Linked DNA regions of Homo sapiens: region 2 is reported to be linked to region 1. Evidence: microRNA targets listed by miRTarBase, many of them from high-throughput screens and not tested one by one. Region 1 holds a microRNA gene; the other region holds the end of a gene's coding sequence.
Evidence for each region. The annotated mature microRNA hsa-miR-3664-3p reads UCUCAGGAGUAAAGACAGAGUU and lies in region 1 at 2,597-2,618, shown strand. An mRNA with a match to its seed (bases 2 to 7 or 8) in the 3' UTR can be bound and repressed. Matches are read on the target gene's strand: a 7mer-m8 pairs with bases 2 to 8, a 7mer-A1 pairs with bases 2 to 7 and ends in A, and an 8mer does both.

Region 1 (7,744 bases):
TGCAGGGTCCGGAATGGCCTGGTCTCCATGCCCTGTGATCACCATTCCTGCTATTACACGGTAGATTTGAAACAGACATGAGGGCACAGTAACTATAAAGACAAAGTGAACTCGTGTTCCTTCAGTGCTGTCATTCTAGGTAGCCACTCGGAGTTTTCATCTGTGTTTAAAATTTGAAACGGCAGTGGATGTGAACTACAAGGTGGAATTTTTTTTTTTTTTTTTTTTTTTTAGTAAATGCAGATATGCAGATTTCAATGCTTACATGAACTATTTTATTGGATTTGGATAATACCTTTAAAATTGACATTCATTCTTTCAAAATATTTGGTTTTAAAACTGATGCACAAATCAATAAAATGATGGTTATTACATGACTGTTAATGAAAATAATTTTGCCATACAGAGGAAGGGCATGTGCCTGTAGTTCCAGCTTCTCAGGAGGCTGAGGCAGGAGGGTTGCTTGAGTTCAGGAGTTGTAGGCTACAGTGAGCTACGGCTGGGCCAGTGCACTCCAGTGTGTGTAACAGAGACCCTGTCTCAATAGATAGATTAGATAGATAGATAAATCATGGATAGATAGATAGATTACATATAAATAGATTAGATAGATTAGATAGATTAGATTAGATTAGATTGGATTAGATTAGATTAGAGGGATAGCTGGATGGGTGAATGGATAGATAGATGGAGTATATAGATATGGATGGATGGATGGACAGATTAGGTAGGTAGGTAGATAGATTAGATAGATATGGATAGATGGATATGGATAGATAGGATAGATTAGATAGATGGATTGATAGATAAGATGGATGGATGGATGAATGGATGGATCTATAGGTAGATGGATAGATGGCTAGATGGAGGAATTTCTGTGTACTGTTCACATGTTCTTTAGTCTGTTCAAAAATGTACTTTGCATTGGGATGCTGCCCCCAGCCTGCCTACATCATGCCTTTTTCCTGATGACACGTGTTCCTGTCACTGACGCCCGGGAGCTGTTTTTGAGGGCAGCTTGCCCAGCGTGCTAGTGACAGGAGGCTGGTGCTAGGAATGAAGGTTATTTGGTCTTCTCACTGGCATCACTGTTTGGTATTCTAATCCCATGAGATCGTTGTAAACAATAGCAAAGTTGTTCATGAACTGGCAAAAAAAAAAAAAATGGTAAATGGAGGAAGCAATGGCTGGCTGTGAGCAGGGGACGCACTCAATGTCCTTTGCAGAGTGAGCAGGGTGGATTAAGTGGTTGCTGCGGGCTCTGGCCTGTGCTGCCATCTTTGCAGTGACCCTGAAGAAGAGAACTGCCCCAGATGGGACTGTGGAACGTCTCTCCTGAAGAAGCCCCGAAAGGGTGTGTGGCAGCCGCTCCTCCTTCATGGGACCACTGCTAGAAGGTTAGGGATCCCAACTGCCTCACCTCTGGGCAGCCCCTCCTCCTCCACGGAACTGCTGTTGGAAGGTTAGGGATCCTGCCTGCCTCCCCTCTGCTGTTTCCCATTTCCTGTTTGCCTATTGAAAGTGTCTGGGGCCGTTGGGCCCTCCTGTCTCATGAATGGGTGTGATTCCTGGAAGCCCTGCAAGTCTCGACCTTGTCAGCTCTCACCTGCCCTCCTCTTCCTCATGGGTTTTGTCAGAGGATGTTAATGCCTTCCAAGCAAATTGTATCAAATGCATTTGAAAGGCAAAACTCATTGTTTAGTGTCTGAGAATAGCCTCTGAGTGCTGGGATGCCACGGTTGCTGTGGCAACGGCTCTTTGTTTTAGGGAACCACAAACATATCATTCTATAAACTGCAGGGCCCAAGCTGCAGGTTTCACCTTCCTGAGGGTCGCCACCCGGGAGGCAGAGGCACCAGGATGGACGTGGGAACTACCTCCGCTCTTCCTTTCTCACAGGTGCCCAGGATGTCTTTAGCTTTTGTAATGTTTGGGGCTGGGGGAGGTGGAGGTCATGAGTGTGGGGAGAGGGCAGACAGTGGATATGTGCTCCTCCTGCCCCGAGGAGCTGGGCTCTACAGGGCATCGTGGGGTCCCTTCCTCTTAGCAATCAATGCCATGTTCCACTGTGGCCCCAGACTCCAGCACCAAGCAAAGCAGCCCCCACGACCCTTAGGACAATGAGGGGTGAAAATTGCCACCCATCAGTTTTCAAGTGGTCAGTGTGGAGGAAAACAGGGACCCGCAGGTGGCCAGAACGTGGAGGAGATACACCAGGGAGCCGGAAGTAATGTGGTCCAGGGACCCATCTCTCATTCCACGTAGCTCACGGACCTGTGTGCCCCTGACTCTGGTCTGTGGGGGGCCCCTCTGTATGGGGGCCCCCTATTCCCTCCATCTGAGGGTCTCTCTTCCCTCCATCCAGCCACTTGGTCGTTTGCACCCACTGTGTCCACCAAGCGCTTCTAGGGAAGGGTCTTGTCCTTTTTTCTCCCCGTCCCGCCGAGCCTCCACCTCCAAGCCTGCATCCTACTTGTCTTTCCTCTTCATGCGTGTGGGGTTTTTTTCCCCTCCTTTCCACTGTGCACCCCGTCTCCTCTGTAAACTTGAAGGTAGGGAACTCTGTCTTCACTCATGAGTACCTTCCAACACGAGCTCTCAGGAGTAAAGACAGAGTTCCCTACCTTCAATGTGGATCTGCAAAAAGATCTGAAAAGCGAATGCCTTCTCCGTAGCTCGTTGGCAGTAGTACTTGACCTGAACTGATTTGAGGCTATTTATAGTTTTTATTTATCCTACTTAGCATGATTATTCATCCGTGCCCTGAAGGACTCCTCCCGCAATTGGCAATGGGACACTGCCCAGACCCACTGGCGGTGTGACGTAACAGGCCACACACGCATCATCCTACTGCTGCAGAAGCAGGCAGCGTGCACATGCCAAGGCACCTCTGGCTCTGGTGTTCAGGGATGTCGTCGTGGGGCTGTATTTGTTGAATGAACAAGAGTTCTTAATCCAAGAATAATGCTGGGTTTACCTTTCAAGTAGTTCAAAGGCTTCTTTCAAGACGGTGTTGTTATGGAGGATGGGATGCGTCTTGCCTTAAATATTAATAGAAATCGTATATGGAAATCTCAGACGGCTTCAAAGAGTCTCTCAGTCAAATTCAGATGGGGACTGTGCCTCTTTCCTGGCTGTCCCCTCCCAGCCCCCATGTGGCCACAGTTTGCTGTAAAACCCTGCAGGGCCCCTGAGTACCAGGTGTGTCTGGCCCGTGTTGCCTTTCAACATGAACTCTTTCTTGACTTTCTTCTCCATCAGGGATATGGTCATATTTATAATATTTGTCTCGACCTCACTTTCCTTTCTCTCCCTGCCCTGCTTGTTCAGCAAATGTGTTGGGGAATCCGCAGGGTCCCAGGCACAGCCTCTCCCTCCAGGGGCTCACAGGCTCCATGGCACACAGATGTGGCCTCAGCACGTGAAGGAGGCTCAGTGCCAGGCTATGTGGCTCATCTCAGAAGGTGGTGTGGCCCCAGGTTCTGTGGTTGCCCTTGCTCTGCTCTCTGCTCCCCACCCCCGCCCATCCTGCCCTGCTCCTATGGTGCCAGTGATCTTCGGGGCTGGTGGCTTGCAGAGCGCTCCCTGGACCTCCTCTTGGACCCTCAGACTCATCTCCTGCAGAGCCTGCCACCAGGCGAGCCCAGACCCCTGACTCCCCTTTGAAGTGTGTCCCTGCAAATGCATATGTTGAAGTATCACCCTGAGGATCTCAGAGTGTGACCTTGTTTAGAGGTAGGGTCTTTACAGAAGTCATCAGCTGAAAATGAGGTCATTAGATTGGGCCCTAATCCAGTAGGACTGATATTCTTATAAAAAGAGGAAATGGGACCGGGTGCAGTGGCTCATGCTTATAATCCCAGCACTTTGGGAGGCTGAGGCGGATGGATCACCTGAAGTCAGGAGTTCGAGACCAGCCTGGCCAACATGGTGAAACCCCGTCTCTACTAAAAATACAAAGATTAGCCGGGCGTGGTGGCGGGTGCCTGTAGTCCCAGCTACTTGGGTGGCTGAGGCAGGAGAATCACTTGAATCTGTGTGGGCGGAGGCTGCAGTGAGCCGAGATCGTGCCACTGCACTCCAGCCTGGGCGACACAGCAAGACTCCATCTCAAATAAATAAATGAATGAATGAATGAATGAAATGTGGCCACAGCCATGCACTCGGAGCAAACCTCACACAAAGATGAAGGCAGAGCTCTGGGTGATGCTTCTGTCAGTCAAGGAATGCCAAAGATTGCCTACAGGCCACTGGGAGCTGGAGAGACAGGCCTGGAACAGAGTCTCCCTGCAGTCCCCAGTGTGAACCCCCCCACTGCCAACACCTTGACCTCAGACTTCCAACCTCCAGAACCATGAGACAATTCATCCCTGTGGTTTCAGTCACCCAGGCTGTGGTTACAGGAGCTCCAGTGAACATACCCCATCTTTCCTGGCCAGCTGGCCCTTCCTCCTGGGCACCCCATCTCAGTTATGGCCCAGGAACTGAAAACCCAAAAACCTTCCTAGATCTTTCCTGGCGCTCACCTGCCCTTTTCCCATCTGTCCAGAACCAGCCCCTTCCACTTTTTCTATTTCCTGAATCTGCCCCTCCCTCCCCACTGGTTGGGCTCTCATTTTGGCCCAGATGGACTGCAGGAGGGGACGGCTCTGGGTCTCACCCCGGGTTCATTTCTCTCAGTCCCCTGGAACGAAGTGGAGCACACTCTGCCTGGGTGAGCCTCCAGCACTCAGATTCTGCTGCTGTGCTCATCCTCAAACCTCTTCCATAGTGCCCTGGGCCACACTCTCTTTATAAGGACACTAATTATTGGATTTAGGACCCTCCCTAATCCAGTATTACCTCGTCGCAACCTCACTGATCACATCTGCAAGGAGGCAATGACCCATTTCCAGTTAAGGCCCCATTCGTAGGTTCTGGGTGGACATGGATTTGGGGGGACACTCTTGTGGACTTTTGTGAGGGTTTCTGGGTGTGTGAGAAGGCAGAGCCTGGGGAGCTTCAGGCAGAGGGGAGGCATTCACATAATTGGTGGTGAGGTCCCTGCACTGACCCAGCGGCGACTGAGCACCCAGTGCGGCAGTAAGTGACCACAGTGTCAGTTCTCATCCCATCTTCCAACAACACCACCATGGACTCCCCGTCGAGCCCCCTGTCTGGGGGAGGACAATCAAGGAGATGATGGGGACATGCCAAGATGACACGGTGGTCACCGAGCCCAGGGTGCCCAACCCAAGGAAGTATCTGCTGGTTATCAGGTTTCTAGCCCAGGACACAGAGCAGACAGAGTGCTGTGGACGGTCAGGAGCTCCATACCCGAGCCTGGCTTGGTGGAGAGGCCATAGGCAGCAAGGTGGGACAGACAGCCTGCCATGAACCAACTGGTCTGCACAACTTTGCCGTGAAATATGAAAGCCTCCTACAGCACAGGCTGAGATTGGAAGCATTAATCACTCTGGTATGGGATGTGTGGAGTTCTGTTGGTCCCAGTGGGTTTAATAACGTGCCGATCGGTGCATCCCAAGCATTCTGTGGCCTGTGGACCGATACATTGTCCTCCCTCTGAAACCTGCTGGTCTGGAGGCCTCTAGGACAGATTGTCGGGATCTATGGTGTATGAGTTTGCTCCAGCTGCCGTCATAAAGCACCACAGACAGGGAGGCTTACACAAGTCATTTATCGTCTCACCGTTTTGGAGGCTGGAAGGCTGAGATCAAGGGGTCTCTGGACTGGTTCCTCCGGAGACCTCTCTCCTTGGCTTGTAGACTTTGCCTTCTCCCTGTATCCTCATGGGGTCATCCCTCTGTATGTCTGTGTCCTGATCTCTTCTTGTAAGGACGCCAGTTGGATTGGATTTAGGACCTGCCCCATCTGGCCTCACTTTAATTTAGTTGCCTCTTTAAAGCCCATCTCCCTATACAGTCGCACACATGCTGATATCCTGGGGGTGAAGCCTGCGTCACATGAATTTTGCAGGTGACACAGTTCAGCCTCTAGCACTCAGCGCCCACCTGGATGTGGCTTCTAACTGCAGGACGCCCTCCCCCAACATCCTCTGGACTTTGGCACCCTGGGTGAGAATTGGGCAGGTTTGTGGAAGAGAATGGGTGAGGATGAGGAGGCCGCATGTTGTGTCCAAACAGGGCTTTCCGTGCCAGAGCCCTTTCCCGGATGGGACTTAGGACTGGCCGTGGCAGCTCCAGTGACTGTGCTCCCTGTGTGGGTGGGGCCCTGGGCTGCCCCCGTGGGGTGTGAGGCTGACTGTGTAAGATGTGGACATGGCCCAGCTCAGTCCATAGGCTGAGCCTGGACTCTGGAACCCACCTTCTTGGCTTGTGTCTTGACTCTGCCCTTCACAGGCTGTGTGACTTTGGACAAGTTACTTAACCTCTCTGTGCCACAGTTGCCTCCTCTGTATCACAGGGATAAATAATAGTCAATAGCCTCGTGCCCAGCTAGTAGCAGTGGTGGTAGAGGGACTCTTGACTGTTGTCATTGTTTATTATAGTATTATTTCCATTTTACACATGGAGAAACCGAGGCCTGGGAGTTTATCCAGCTTGACCAGGCTTATCATAGCAGGCACAGGTTATGACCCTGGGGTTGTCCAAGAGCAGATCACACCGCCCCATGTCCGTGGACAGGTGTCCGTATGCCGACCCCCTCAGCCTCTGTGTCTATGCGACCCACCTTCTTCACCTGCACCCTCTGGGCCAAGCCATTGAAAGTGAGAACGAGGGAGTCTTCCTCGAGAAAAGAAACTCTTCATTAGGCTTCATATTTGTGTCTTCAATTATGCTGTCAAATGCTAAGGAGTTTAGACACTTACTGCCAGCGCCGGGCCCTTGGTGACGGCGTACATTATTTGCATAATCAGCACGGGTGGACCCGCTGGTAATTCCACCCAATTATTTGCCCAGAATTGACACTGATCAATTTAGAGGGAGGCACAGTCAGTGATGGAATTAAGTGGTAGCAAACACACTGTCAGTACATGAAGTCCAGACAGAGGCAAACAGCCCAGAGATGGATGGGCGGGAGGCGGGGGCCGGCCGGTGCAGGAGCAGTGGAGGCGGTGGACCTGGGTCCTGTGTGCTGAACGCTGAAATGCTTCCTTGGAAACTTCACAGAGAGTCCTAGGCAATAAAGGTCAGCAGTGGAATATTGTCACAGAATAATGACTCTGTGCCGCTGGGTAAATGTTAAAGCTTTTATTGGGGTGAGACGTGGATGTCTGGCTGGCTCTGAATTCAGTGGGTAATGAATACAAATCTATAGCGTCGATTCTCAAGAGGGAACATGGCTGAGCTGACCCCACATTCACGAGCCGGTGGCCTGGGCAGACTTTTCTGGCTGGGGCAGCGAGGTTGTGAAGGCATCCCTGGCTCAGGCAGCTTTGGCCCGTCCTGCCCCACCCCTCAGCCCTCATGCGCATGCCGTACTCCCCAGCAGTGGACATAGCTGTTTGCTGTTAACAGCGGCTCTTGCCTCTCGTCCTCCGTTGGTGGAGTCCTGGCCTGATCCTTGGCCTCCGGACCTGCTCTCGGCCCTGCTGCCCGTGTGGAGCCAAGACGTGTGCACTCTCCTCATTGGTCCTCCCCTGTGTTCAGGATTTACTGAGGACTCGGACAAGAGCGTCCTTCCACCAGCACCCTCCACCTACCCCTACCCGGATAGGAGACAGCTGACCTCAGGATGGCACCTTCGTATTCTAGAACTTGAGAGAGTCAGAGTGGGGATCCAC
Region 2 (7,000 bases), not on the chromosome of region 1:
GTCTACTTCTCTTTGGAGGATGAGCTCAAAAGCAAGGTGGGGAGAGCCATCCCTTCTGCCACCACTAACTCTGTTTCCACGGGCTTTTGGGCCCGTATGTTCATGGCCGTCTGCCTTTCACAGGTGTTTGCAGAAAAAATGGGCCTGGAGACAGGCTGGAACTGCCACATCTCCCTCACACCCAATGGTGACATGCCTGGCTCCGAGATCCCCCCCTCCAGCCCCAGCCACGCAGGCTCCCTGCATGATGACCTGAATCAGGGTAAGGGCAAAGGCGTGGGGTGGGGACGGGGTGGCGGTGGGAGGATTCCCCTCCTCAGAGCCACAGCCAGGAAGAGCCTCCGGAGAGCCCTCCAGTTAAGTACATTCCCTTGGGAAATGGCTCTGATGTCCCTGCGGGAAACAGTAGTCAGCAGGAAGGAGTGGACACAGGCAAAAAATTCTCTGCAGGGCAAGGACAGGTTCCCAGAAGGCTGGTCCCAAGGTGAGGGAGAGGCTTTTGTCCCCACAGTGTCCCGAGATGATGCAGAAGGGCTCCTCCTCATGGAGGAGGAGGGCCACTCGGACCTCATCAGCTTCCAGCCTACGGACAGCGACATCCCCAGCTTCCTGGAGGACTCCAACCGGGTACGATGGCAGGATCTGTCTCACGTGTTCCTGTAGTGGTCCCATAGCTGGTCCAGGGGAGAGGTAGAGAGGTGGTGGGCAGGCGGTGGAGGGGAGGGATGCTGATCCCCATCCCGAAGCCGCTGGCATCTCTGCTTTCTCCAGGCCAAGCTGCCCCGGGGTATCCACCAAGTGCGGCCCCACCTGCAGAACATTGACAACGTGCCCCTGCTAGTGCCCCTTTTCACCGACTGCACCCCAGAGAGTGAGTGCTGTGGCCATGGGTACTTGGGCAACCTGGTCCCGTCGGCTGAGCTCTGCCTGGGCCTGCGTACCCCGTGGGCTCTGGAGGGATGTAGGTTTCCCATGCAGGGAGTAAAGGAACCTGGGCTGGGATCAGCTGGGGAATCTTGTGGGTTGGAGTCAGAAGTGCCGATGTTCACATGATCCCGCTGCCGGGGGTGGGATTGTTTCAAAGAGGGGCCCACCTCCCATCGCCTCCTGCTCTCCTGTCCCATGGGTCTCTGCCCAGTGCCCACTTGGTGCTCTGCCTGCCTGACTCTGGTGCCCTTATACGCTGTCCTCAGCCATGTGTGAGATGATAAAGATCATGCAAGAGTACGGGGAGGTGACCTGCTGCCTGGGCAGCTCTGCCAACCTGCGGAACAGCTGCCTCTTCCTCCAGAGCGACATCAGGTCAGGGCGGGACCCTGGAGCCTGCGGGCCAGCCTCTACCTCCCAGACCGGAGGATCAGATGGGCCTGCGTGGGGCTGGGGGTGTGTACTATAGCCGACCTCGCCCTGGCTGGGACCAATGCACCTGGGCATGGTGGGAGAAGAGGGTGGGGTGCCCAGTCCTGTGGGAGATACAGCTGAAGTGTGTGTGTCCCCCACCCTGAGCAGCATTGCCCTGGATCCCCTGTACCCATCCCGTTGCTCCTGGGAGACCTTTGGCTACGCCACCAGCATCAGCATGGCCCAGGCCTCGGATGGCCTTTCTCCCCTGCAGCTGTCAGGGCAGCTCAACAGCCTGCCCTGTTCCCTGACCTTTCGCCAGGAGGAGACCATCAGCATCATCCGGCTTATCGAACAGGTGGGTGCTTCGGCAGGCAAAGGAGGAGAGACGCAGGACAGGACCCGCCTGGGGTGGGAGTAGCAGCAAAGGACCTGTTTGAACCCGGGGACCTCATTCCCCAGCCCTCCGAGCGGGCTCTCCCAGGCAGTTACATTCGCCTCTGCTCCCCTCGTAGAAGCATCCTGGGCGTCTGGCTCTTGGCTAAAGTGTGTCAGCTGTTGGGCCTGGGAGAGGCCAGGTAGACCCAGGCCATAATCTGTCCCTCTTGGTCCCTAGGCTCGGCATGCCACCTATGGCATCCGTAAGTGCTTCCTCTTCCTGCTGCAGTGCCAGCTGACTCTTGTGGTCATCCAGGTGAGGTGGGGCCCGCACAGGCATTGCCCCCGTGCCACTCACCCCTTCACTCAGGGGCCAGCTGAAAATCTGAGGAAGGAGGCTGGGGTTAGCAGTACAGTCAAGGGGTCCCCCCAGAGCCTCTGTGAAGCCCCTGGGCTTTTTGAGCTGACCCTCATTGGCAGAAGAGTATTCCCTCCGGCCCCTGTTCCCTCTGGCAGGATGTGAGCATCTATCTGGGCCCAGGGCAAGGGAGCTCGGGGGCTCCTATGCCCTTATTATTTGCCTGAATTGAACTGTGGCTCTTGGCTTCTTTCCTGGTCTAGTTCCTTTCTTGCCTGGTCCAGCTGCCGCCACTCCTGAGTACCACCGACATCCTGTGGCTGTCCTGCTTTTGCTACCCTCTGCTCAGGTGAGATGCCATGTATCTTCCCCACACCCCATGCCTAAGCAGGAGGTGTCTGGATGTCACTGTGCAGCCCCAGGAGCCCAAGGTTCTGGAACTGCTCAGGTCTCACCTCCTCTGGTACAGGAGGCATGGAGGGAACCCCCTTTGTCTTTTTTTTTTTTTTTTTTTTTTTTTTTGAGATGGAGTCTCGCTCTGTCACCCAGGCTGGAGTGCAATGGTGCAATCTCTGCTCATTGCAACCTCCGCCTCCCGGGCTCAAGTGATTCTCCTGCCTCAGCCCCCTGAGTAGCTGGGATTACAGGCACCCACTATCATGCCTGGCTAATTTTTGTATTTTTAGTAGAGATGGGTTTTTGCCATGTTGGCGAGGCTGGTTTTGAACTCCTGACCTCAAATGATCTGCCCATCTCAGCCTCCCAAAGTGCTGGGATTACAGGTGTGAGCCACTGCCGTCCAGCCTTTGTTTTATTCCATCCCCTCACCAGACTCGACCTCACGCGCAAGACTCCCTAGAGGTTCCCTCTATGAGAATTGAGGGACAGAGGGTCATTGTCACCATCCCTCTACCTGATCTCTGCTTTTCAGCATCTCTCTGCTGGGGAAGCCCCCCCATAGCTCCATCATGTCTATGGCAACGGGGAAAAACCTCCAGTCCATTCCCAAGAAGGTAAGCAAAACAGACCCTGTGAGCCTTGCAAGTGAGCATGGAAGGGACTGAGGATTGGGGGAGGAGAGAGGGGCTAATCTGGAAGGCTCTGGATGGGGGATTCCAGCAGAACTCCGGCACTTGGTTCCTAGTCTTCCCCCAGATCAAAGAGGAGGTAGTGGCACAGAGCTGGGAAAGACCCTTGCTGGGGCTTGAGCTCCCTATCCCCCCAGGCCTGACCATTTACTAAGAGCCCGTTGAATACGTGGAAGAGCTAGGAGCAGCCGGCAGAGGGGCTGTGCGCCCCAGGAGTGACTGGCCTTGTTCCCGCAGACCCAGCACTACTTCCTGCTCTGCTTCCTGCTCAAGTTCAGCCTCACCATCAGCTCCTGCCTCATCTGCTTTGGCTTCACACTGCAGAGCTTCTGTGACAGCTCCCGGGACCGCAACCTCACCAACTGCTCCTCCGTCATGCTGCCCAGGTGGGTCCCAGCCCCAGAGATCCACCCATCGCCTGCCTCGCCTCGAGGCTTCCTCCCTCCCCACCCCAGCCTACCTCCCTGCGGCCCTAGAGGGGCTGAGCCCATGCCTCACTTTGGCAGCAACGACGACAGGGCTCCAGCCTGGTTTGAGGACTTTGCCAATGGACTGCTGTCGGCTCAGAAGCTCACGGCCGCCCTGATTGTCCTGCACACTGGTGAGAGGGCTCCCTGGGAGGGCGTGGATGATGGTGGGAGAGGAGCCCCACTGTGGAAGTCTGACCCCCACATCGCCCCACCTTCCCCAGTCTTCATTTCCATCACCCATGTGCATCGCACCAAGCCCCTGTGGAGAAAGAGCCCCTTGACCAACCTCTGGTGGGCCGTGACAGTGCCTGTGGTGTGAGTATTGCTAGGATGGAGGGCGGAGTGTGGGCTGGGGAGGAGAGGGCCTTCTGCAGGGCTAGGATCGGAGGGCGGGACCGGGGCCAGTGGTTTAACTGTACCCTGCCTGAGCTAACTGTTGTACTGGGAAGAGCAGGGAAGGAAGCAAGCAGTGTCGGGTTCACACGGGGCCGCCACCTCCTGCAGGCTGCTGGGTCAGGTGGTCCAGACGGCTGTGGACCTGCAGCTGTGGACACACAGGGACAGCCACGTCCACTTTGGCCTGGAGGACGTGCCCCTGCTGACATGGCTCCTGGGCTGCCTGTCCCTGGTCCTTGTGGTGGTGACCAATGAGATCGTGAAGCTACATGAGATTCGGTGAGCTGTCAGCAGGGCGCCTCCCTCTGGGCTCAGGCATGTTCCCTAAACCTGTTACTCCCTTGGCGACACTCCCCCACCTTTCCGCTGCCCATCCCTCCCTCCTCCTCTGGTGTCCTGCCCCGGCCCCTGGTCTAAGGATCTTTGCCAACCTGTACTTTAATCTCCTGCCCCACCAGGGTCCGAGTCCGCTACCAGAAGCGACAGAAGCTGCAGTTTGAAACTAAGCTGGGCATGAACTCTCCCTTCTGAGCCACTGGCTGTGGTGGCTGTAGTTGCCCCCGTCCCTGGGGCTAAAGCCAGACCCATTTCTGAACAGGGGAGTTTGTATCATGAATGTTTCCAGGTTTGCTCCTGCACCCGTGGCACTGGAAACCCAGCTCCCCGTGTCAGACCCCGCTGTCTTCCTGAGCCCTGGGGCTCACTGTGGAGGAGCTGACGGCCTGGGCCCTTGGCCAGTCCTGGCTCTTCCCTGGGCCTCACCAGGGACACTCTTGAATGTATGGCCTCAGGCGCTCCCTAGAGGGGCCCTAAACCCCCTCACCTGTGAGCTACCCCCTTTAGGGATCCCTTGCCCCCTTGGAGATCCCTTGCCCCCCAGTGCCTCTGCTCGTGGGTCCCTGGACACGGCCTTGAAGCCAACCTTCTTTGGAGGAGCAACAGCAGCAGCCTTGGCCGACGCGTCCAACTCCCAAGGCTGCCGTGGAGGGCAGGGGGGTGGTGCTTGCCTGGATGTGGCCCCGAGTGCCTCCCCTCCCTCCCTCTGTGGGGGAGTCTCCCGCCTGAACCTGAAGATGGAGCAGGGCCCCCGCTTCGCCCTGGAGCCTCTTCCTGTGCCTGGCTCAAGCTGGCTGCCTGTCAGTCTTGGGGAATCTGGCCCAGGTCTCCTCAGCCTCTGCCCCAGTTCTGGGAGAAGTTTCTACTGGTGTATATTTTTTACTGGAAATGAGCCTTTTAGGAATGAATGTAGACTGGTTTGTATTAAAATGTGTCAATTGCTAAGAAATACCTGTGGCTGGTCTGTAAGGCCACTCCAGGGTCTGCCCACCCCCGGCGGTGGCTGGCAAAGGGAGGCCTAAACCTTCCTCCATCTACGCGGGTGGGTCCCTCAGGTCTGGCTCAGGCGAGACCCCTAGGGTCAGGGGTCCCCATGTCACAGAGGCAAACACACAGCCCAGTCACGTGGAATGGTGTTTTCATTGGTGTTAGTTGGGGGAAGAGGTTAATGGTTACAGAGCCAGGGCCTGGGCCAATGGGGTCAGGCTCTCCCTGCCCTCAGGTGGGCAGTCGGGGCTCCTGCTGTGGTCCGAAGCCCCTCCCCCATTGTGTCCTCTCAGGCAGTTGATAGAATAAATTCCATTTAAAATATATGCATTTCTCTCTGCTTAGAAAATAACATTTACAATTGAAAAGTTAGGACTTGTGGGATCTGTTAACCCCACTGCCTCCCACCCCTGCTAGCCCTGCCTCAGTGAGGGAAGGCGGGGGCAGGAGCTGCCTGGGCACCACCGCTGTGTATTTACATGTCCTCTGTACACCTACGGAGAGGGGGCCCGGCCAGACACACGCCTCCTCCAGCCTCTCAGGGCCTGGGCAGGATGGTGGGTGGCAAGAGGCATTCCCTTGGCACAACTTGGGACATGGGCTGGGGGGTACAGAGAAAGCACCCCCAAAGCCCCACCCCTACTTCCTCCCTGAGGAGAGAGCTCTTACCAGGGTCCCTGTCCAGGAGCAGGGCTGTCCTGCTCAATCGATCAAACCCTGGGAGGGGCTTTGCTGAGATGCAGCGGAGGTCCCTCGCTAGTCAGGTTCTAAGGTGGGCTGCCCCACAAGAGCTGTGGTGCCCACAGCCGCGGGCTGAGTGGGAAGGGGCCCTGCTAGGAGGGGCACTTCAGCCTGACCAGCCCTTGGCCCGTCCCTAGGGTGGCAGGGGCCTCTTCTGTGCTGGGGCAAAGGCAGTGGACTTCGGCAGGTCACAGTGGGCACTGCTGGAGGGCTCAGTCCAGCATGGCGTCCAGCTGGTCAGCCAGGGCGTCGAACATGGTGCTGATGTCATCCAGAATGTGCTTGGTGGAGGCGCTGGGGGTGCTGCAGCAAGGGGAAGGATGCGGTCAGATCAGCCAGTGGCCTGCACCCCACTGGCCCTGGGGCAGGGAGCTGTCATAGCTCCCAGAGGCTCAGGGAGGCAAGGGACCGGCCAGGCTCCTGTGCCTCTTAAATGGTAGCCACCAGGATTCCCTGATCTAGGTGATTTCAACACCTGGCCTCTTATCCCGTTAGTGCCTGCAATGTCCCCCTCCAACATCCCCATGATCCCTGGGCAGAGGATGCAGGGAGCACTGTTTCTCTGCAGCCTTCTCTCCCTCCCCATCCGGCCCCCCTCACCCCTCTTGCTCCTTGGTGCCAATGCTCTTCTCTGCGGCTCTCAGTGCAGCTGCCAGGGACGAGCTGGTCTGCTCCAGTCTCTGCTGGGCCTGGCCTGGGCCCACAGTCCCAGTGCTCTCAGGCCGTGGAGGAGGCACTGGGCGGGGGCCGAGCCGGGGCGCTAGCTTAGGGCCAGAAAATGCCAGCTGGGTGCAGGCCACCGACACAGGCTTGGGGGCTGTTCCTGCAGAGACAAAAAGGTTGGCTTGGGACTTGGCTGGGTCAGACACAACCCTGCCAGCAGTGACTCTCCCACAGGCCTCCCC

Region 2: the mRNA of CASKIN2 is a reported target of hsa-miR-3664-3p. Seed matches in the 3' UTR shown: 7mer-A1 at 5,891-5,897 and 7mer-A1 at 5,642-5,648.

The regions. Positions count from the first base shown.
Region 1 is chr11:70,867,163-70,874,906 of GRCh38, reverse strand. It overlaps MIR3664 (microRNA 3664), which reads left to right and starts at 2,539; the gene lies at 2,539-2,637. The region is part of intron 11 of SHANK2 (SH3 and multiple ankyrin repeat domains 2); the gene reads left to right.
Region 2 is chr17:75,494,773-75,501,772 of GRCh38, forward strand. CASKIN2 (CASK interacting protein 2) reads right to left here. Exons shown (of 20, transcript NM_020753.5): 19 at 6,696-6,918; 20 at 5,489-6,398. The coding sequence ends at 6,308. It overlaps TMEM94 (transmembrane protein 94), which reads left to right. Exons shown (of 32, transcript NM_014738.6): 19 at 1-36; 20 at 124-262; 21 at 512-627; 22 at 772-871; 23 at 1,194-1,302; 24 at 1,510-1,699; 25 at 1,958-2,035; 26 at 2,341-2,426; 27 at 3,009-3,090; 28 at 3,403-3,551; 29 at 3,672-3,766; 30 at 3,857-3,950; 31 at 4,140-4,310; 32 at 4,490-5,680. The coding sequence ends at 4,562. MIR6785 (microRNA 6785) reads left to right here and starts at 3,776; the gene lies at 3,776-3,856.